Linked DNA regions of Homo sapiens: region 1 is linked to region 2. Evidence: fine-mapped expression QTL. A gene starts in region 2. The other region holds a variant in brackets. All regions are shown on one strand. Distances are from middle to middle. Region 1 overlaps PEX1 (peroxisomal biogenesis factor 1). Region 2 holds the start of PEX1 (peroxisomal biogenesis factor 1).

The links.
Region 1: its variant is fine-mapped to the expression of PEX1 in whole blood (TOPMed, PIP 0.98).

Annotation. Positions count from the first base shown.
Region 1 is chr7:92,505,615-92,508,641 of GRCh38, forward strand. It overlaps PEX1 (peroxisomal biogenesis factor 1), which reads right to left. Exons shown (of 24, transcript NM_000466.3): 10 at 1,380-1,512; 11 at 634-730. Among named protein-coding and RNA genes, the nearest start is that of PEX1, 21 kb to the right of the region's middle. The variant TCCC/T (reference allele first, on the strand shown) is at 1,192.
Region 2 is chr7:92,526,982-92,529,481 of GRCh38, forward strand. It overlaps PEX1 (peroxisomal biogenesis factor 1), which reads right to left and starts at 1,539. Exons shown (of 24, transcript NM_000466.3): 1 at 1,326-1,539. The coding sequence starts at 1,454. RBM48 (RNA binding motif protein 48) reads left to right here and starts at 1,814. Exons shown (of 5, transcript NM_032120.4): 1 at 1,814-1,943; 2 at 2,495-2,500. The coding sequence starts at 1,833. RefSeq lists enhancers at 958-1,137, 1,738-2,117 and a silencer at 1,368-1,597.

The sequences.
Region 1 (3,027 bases), 21 kb before region 2:
CCTGGAGTTGCTATATTTGAAACACAAATTTGGCTTCAAACTTCCTGGTGAGTTACAAAGTTTAAATTTACAAAGAACAGGAAATACACAAGTTCATGATTAGTTGGAACTATATGACAGCGGTACCCATGGGGGAAAAATTAACTGTTCAAAGTAAAATCTTCCCAATATTTTTTAATTGAATAGATAATAATGTAAATGTTAAGGACTTTAAAAGTACAAAAGTGTTATATGGTGAACTGTAATTCTCCTCATTGCTGTCCACAGCCTCCTACTTTCTCTCCCCTGAAGCAACCATTCTCCCAGTTTTCCATAGCAATTCAGAGATCATTTATACCAATTAGAGTATATTCTAAGTACTAATTTTTCAGAGTGGTGTCAGTGAGCACTTCCAGAAATGTAGTCTACAAAAAGTTCTGGCTAGAAAAAAAAATAGGCCTCCATTAAATATGGAGAGTTTTAGAAATTTTATCAAAAACATTAGAAAGCCAAAGAAATTTTAATGACTAAATGATAAACAGAAAAGTTAAAGACTAGATGATATGTGTATTTATTAGATTGACAGCATTATGTATAACATTCCTGTCTTTCTAATGAAAAAGGGATTTATATAGAGTGTTACCATACTCATACCTCGTAAAGCTTTACAGTCAACTCTCTCCACATGGGCATCCAGTTTGTCAAATGCTTCTTTACAGATTGCTTTGGCTAAAGTTGATTTTCCACTTCCCTAGAAAATAATTGCTTTATAGGAATTCCCAATATATTCAGTCACAGAAATAGTTCCTGTCATTGTGGCAACCACCAAGATTCAGCCTCAATTTTATACAACCTCTTCCAAAAAAACAAAAGAAGAGGAGAGAATACTTCCCATCTCATTTTATGAGGCCAGATTTACACGGATAGCAAAACCAGACAAAGACAACACAAAAACAGAAAACTGCAAACTAATCACTTTCAAACTTAAATGGACAAAAGCTCAACAGAACATTAGCAGATAAAACTCAGCAATGTAGAAAGAATGATACACCACAACTACGTGGTATTTATCACAGGTATGCAAGGCTGGTTCAACATTTGTAAGTTACTCAACCCTATCAACACCTAATAGCCTAAAAAAGAAAAACCATATAATTGTATCAACTGACACAGAAAAAGGGCATGGAGAACATCAGTCTTATTCGTCATCAC[TCCC/T]CCAACACCTAAAAGCAGACACACAGAAATATTAGTGAATAAATGAATGCTTTCCATATGTCGTATAAACCCTATATAATAGATGGTCAAAACCCACCCTATATAATAGATGGTCAAAACCCAAAGAAAGATAAATGAAAAGTTATTAAATGTTACAGAAAAATGAACACACCTTAACCACTTACCTTTCCTCCTGTGAGTAAAAGAGCTCCATTCCTAAGTCCTGCAACAAGAGACATCAGCTGCCGAGACAAAGGGCGTCCCAGGAGGCTGTGAGTGATGTGCTCCAAGGAGGATACGCCTAAGGAATTCACTCCTCTGTAAAAAATATACATAGTTACATGATAAAAGACTGAAGCAGGATAAAATTTAGCTATAAAAAAATGCTGAATTTTGCCTTCCCAGTGTAGTTAATTAATTTAATTTAATTTTTTATCTTTTTTTTTTTGAGAAAGGGGCTTGCTGTGTCATCCAGGCTGGAGCGCAGTGGTGTGAACCCAGCTCCCTGCAGCCTCAAACGCCCTGGCAAAGGTGATCCTCCTGCCTCAGCCTCCCGAGTAGCTGGGACTTCAGGAGTGTAACACCACACCCAGCTGATTGGGTTTTTTGTGTGTGCATTTGTTGTAGAGACGGGGTTTTGCCATGTTGCCCAGGCTAGTCTCCAACTCCTGGGCTCAAGTGATCCATCTGCCTCGGCCCCACAAAGTGCTGGGATTATAGACACAAGCCACCATGCTCAGACTAGTTAATAAATTTTAAAAGACTAAAATCTTAGAAATTGTCCCCTACTTGAGAGAAAGTATACTGATTAATGTCGAATCTGACTTCAAGCTTTTTTTTTTTTTTTTTTTTGAGACGGAGTCTTGCTCTGTCACCCAGGCTGGAGTGCAGTGGCATGATCTCGGCTCACTGCAACCTCTGCCTCCCAAGTTCGAGCAATTCTCCTGCCTTAGCCTCCCGAGTAGCTGGGATTACAGGTGCCCACCACCACACCTGGCTAATTTCTGTATTTTTAGTAGAGACAAGGTTTCACCATGTTGCTCAGGCTCGTCTCAAACTCCTGACCTCAAGTGATCCACCCGCCTTGGCCTCCCAAAGTGCTGGAATTACAGGTGTGAGCCACCGCGCCCAGCCTCCAAGCTTTTAAAATTAGTTTTATTACTTTTAAAATATGCAGTTACTAAAAGTTTTGCCCTAATAGAACTCCTTAAGGAATCTTAACACATAAAAAAACACCTCTAGCCCCCAAATGATTTAGTTTAGTAATCAACATAATCATAAATGGGTGCTTTTGAAGTACTGAGGATAACTAAAAACTTATTTTCTCTTAAACATTACCTATGAAATCCAGTATCAATCTGTAGATTATATTTTACAAACATGAACTTTAAACTACTTCTTGACTGTGACTGCCTGCCACTTTACATGATCACATGAGAGTCTGAAGAGATTTTACTTTATGCTGGGCACAGTGGTTCACGCCTGTAATCCCAGCACTTTGGGAGGCTGAGGCAGGCGGATCACTTGAGACCAGCCTGGCCAACATGGTGAAACCCCATCTCTACTAAAAATACAAAAAATTAGGCAGGTGTGGTGGTGCATGCTTGTAATCCCAGCTACTTAGGAGGCTGATGCGGAAGGATTGCTTGAACCCAGGAGGCGGAGGTTGCAATGAGCTGAGATTGCAACACTGCACTCCAGCCTGAGTGACAAAGTGAGAGTCCATCTCAAAAAAAAAAAAAGAGATTTTATTTTATATTAATAAACACTGTGCTATAAACATTTTGACTTTATCGTTTAATCCTTTTACTAAAACATTTACAGATTATACCA
Region 2 (2,500 bases):
ATGGAATCTATAAAGTAATAAACTTATTACATTGATAATTAGAAAGTAAAGTTGACCTATTCTGCTAATATGGGCTGAACAGAAACAGCAATTTGTTCCAGGGCTAAAGACATTTACATTTCAAAAAGATATGCATGAATTAATTCTTATAAGTACTTCCCGAAGGCTCAAAATTTAAAACAAAGATCAAGACCACTAAATTCTTAAACAGTGATGAATGTAAGGTAACAACTACATCTTAGGATCAAATTAGAGTTACTGTAAGAAAGCATTCCTACTATTAAGTGCAGATTTGAAAACATGTTGAAAAATCCCATCGAAGCTGACAGAGCACTGAACCAACTTCTACCTGGAACTTGGTGACAGTGACTGATTTGTCTCTAGCCATAAAGCCCATCAAAAACCAAAAGATTGTCTACTTAGTGGTAAAAAATAATAACGACGATGATAGGAGGATTCTGCTGAACTCATGTTTTCAGTGGACCAAAAATATCTTCCCCTAGGTATGGGGAAGTAACTCAAGTGGAAAGAAGGGATGCTTGAAATTATTGCAAACTCTATTCATTGCATAGATTAGCCACTGGTGGGTACCATGCATCCAGGATTTATGAGGATTTCAAATACGCCGTCCTTTTGCCCCCATAAGTACACTCAAACTCGTGAGACCATGTGCCTCTATTTTTAATTATGAAAATATGGACGCTGTATCTCCACCAGTGGTTAGAACTGTGAAACATCCTAACCACAACGTCCAGAAGGGCGACTGATCGCAGAGCTTCAAGTGATCTTAACTACGTTATGTGTTCCTAACACACTACAGCTGTGTTCCGCGTCAGCGACGCAGGGCAGAACCATCATTGTATTAACCTTTCCCGCTCATGGGACGCGGTGCTTAGTCCCCGGGAACCGACAGGGGCTCCGCCAACAACTCTGCGTCCCGCTCTCGCGGCCCGGACGGCAGCAGCGCAGGTTAACTGGAAATGGCTGGCAAGGAAAACACCTTTTAAAATAATAAAAACAAACCACTTCTCAGGAGCTTTTCCAGCCTGGAATAAGGAATATTTATAAAAACAGTGGTAGAATATTAGGACGTTTCTAGGTTCAGTTTCACCAAGTGAAAAGACCTGGGATAAGACGAGCCCAGGGCTGCACTGGACTTGTGGGATCCAGAGACTACCCAGAAGGGCCCTGCCGTCGAGGGACCCTGATCTCTGCGCGCTTCGGCGGCGCCCGGGTGGCAGCCGGTGTCCCGCCGCGTCCCTGAGAGGCTTCGGCCTCGTCCGACCCCAGGCTGAAGATCAGGTGGCTCGGGGCCGGCAGGTTACCTGCAGCAGATGCAGCTGGGCCACGAGACGCCGCGGCAGGTGGAGGAAGCAGTCGCGAGCGTTGGTGAAGGCCACAGTCACTGCCGCCCCGCCTCCCCCAGCACCCGCCAGGCGATCGCTGCCCCACATCGTCCCGGAGCGTCGCTCTGGGTTCGCCCACCCTAGCGCCGCAAAGGACCCGGGACCCGGCAGGCCGAGGACGTCGGAGCCGGAGGAGATCGATCGGCCCCGCCCCCTGCGGCCCCGCCCCCTCTCCCCGCTGCGCATCCTGCCGTAAGCCTGTAGTGGGTGGGACAAGAAAGCTTCTGTCACCCACCGCGCCTCTCCGCCGAGCCGCTCGGGGGCGGCACCTCGTTCATCAAATCTTCGCACGCAGGAAACGATGGCCGACGCTGTCGATTCTCCAGCCAATCCTGGCACTCCTTAACTCATCCCGCTCTCTTATTGGATAAAAGGGAGCTCAGTAGGGCGGATGTTGTCCTCCCTGCGAGGATCAAAGTAGGCAAGATGGCGTCGAGCGGCGGGGAGCTAGGGAGTTTATTTGATCACCACGTCCAGAGGGCGGTATGCGACACACGGGCCAAATATCGAGAGGGACGACGGCCTCGTGCTGTGAAGGTAAAGTGATTTTGGTTTCATTCGCTCTCCTCGGTAGCTTTATGTGAGTGCTAGCGCCATATGACCAGCCTACGGAAATAAAGGCACGACAAGGCTTCCGTCAGATCTGTCTCTCGTTAGAGCTGGCGTGAAGAACCCTCGGTCAGTTACCAAAGATTCTCACGACGCCTTTGGTCAAGTATTAGAACATCAACTCCACGAGAATAGGCCTTGGTTTTAGTCATTGGATCTTCTGTGTTTACAGTACTACTTGGCACAGGTAAGCACTCAGTGAATATTCGTTGAGTGATTGTTCCCAGTGACTTCTACCGACTCAATTTCTGGAAAAAAATGTCGACTGAAGGTAGTCTGTTATATGCCTTAGGTAGCCTCTCACATGGACTGTTATTCTTTATGCAGAAGGAATGGCAGAAATTTCATTTTGTGTTCTTTTGCTGACTGGGTTGAACAGATTATTTCTTGTTTTCAAAGTTCTCTTTAAAAAAAAATAGAGGCAGATTCGTCCTAGGCTTATTTGCGAAATACGTTTAATAACTCTGCATTTCTTTCAGGTATAT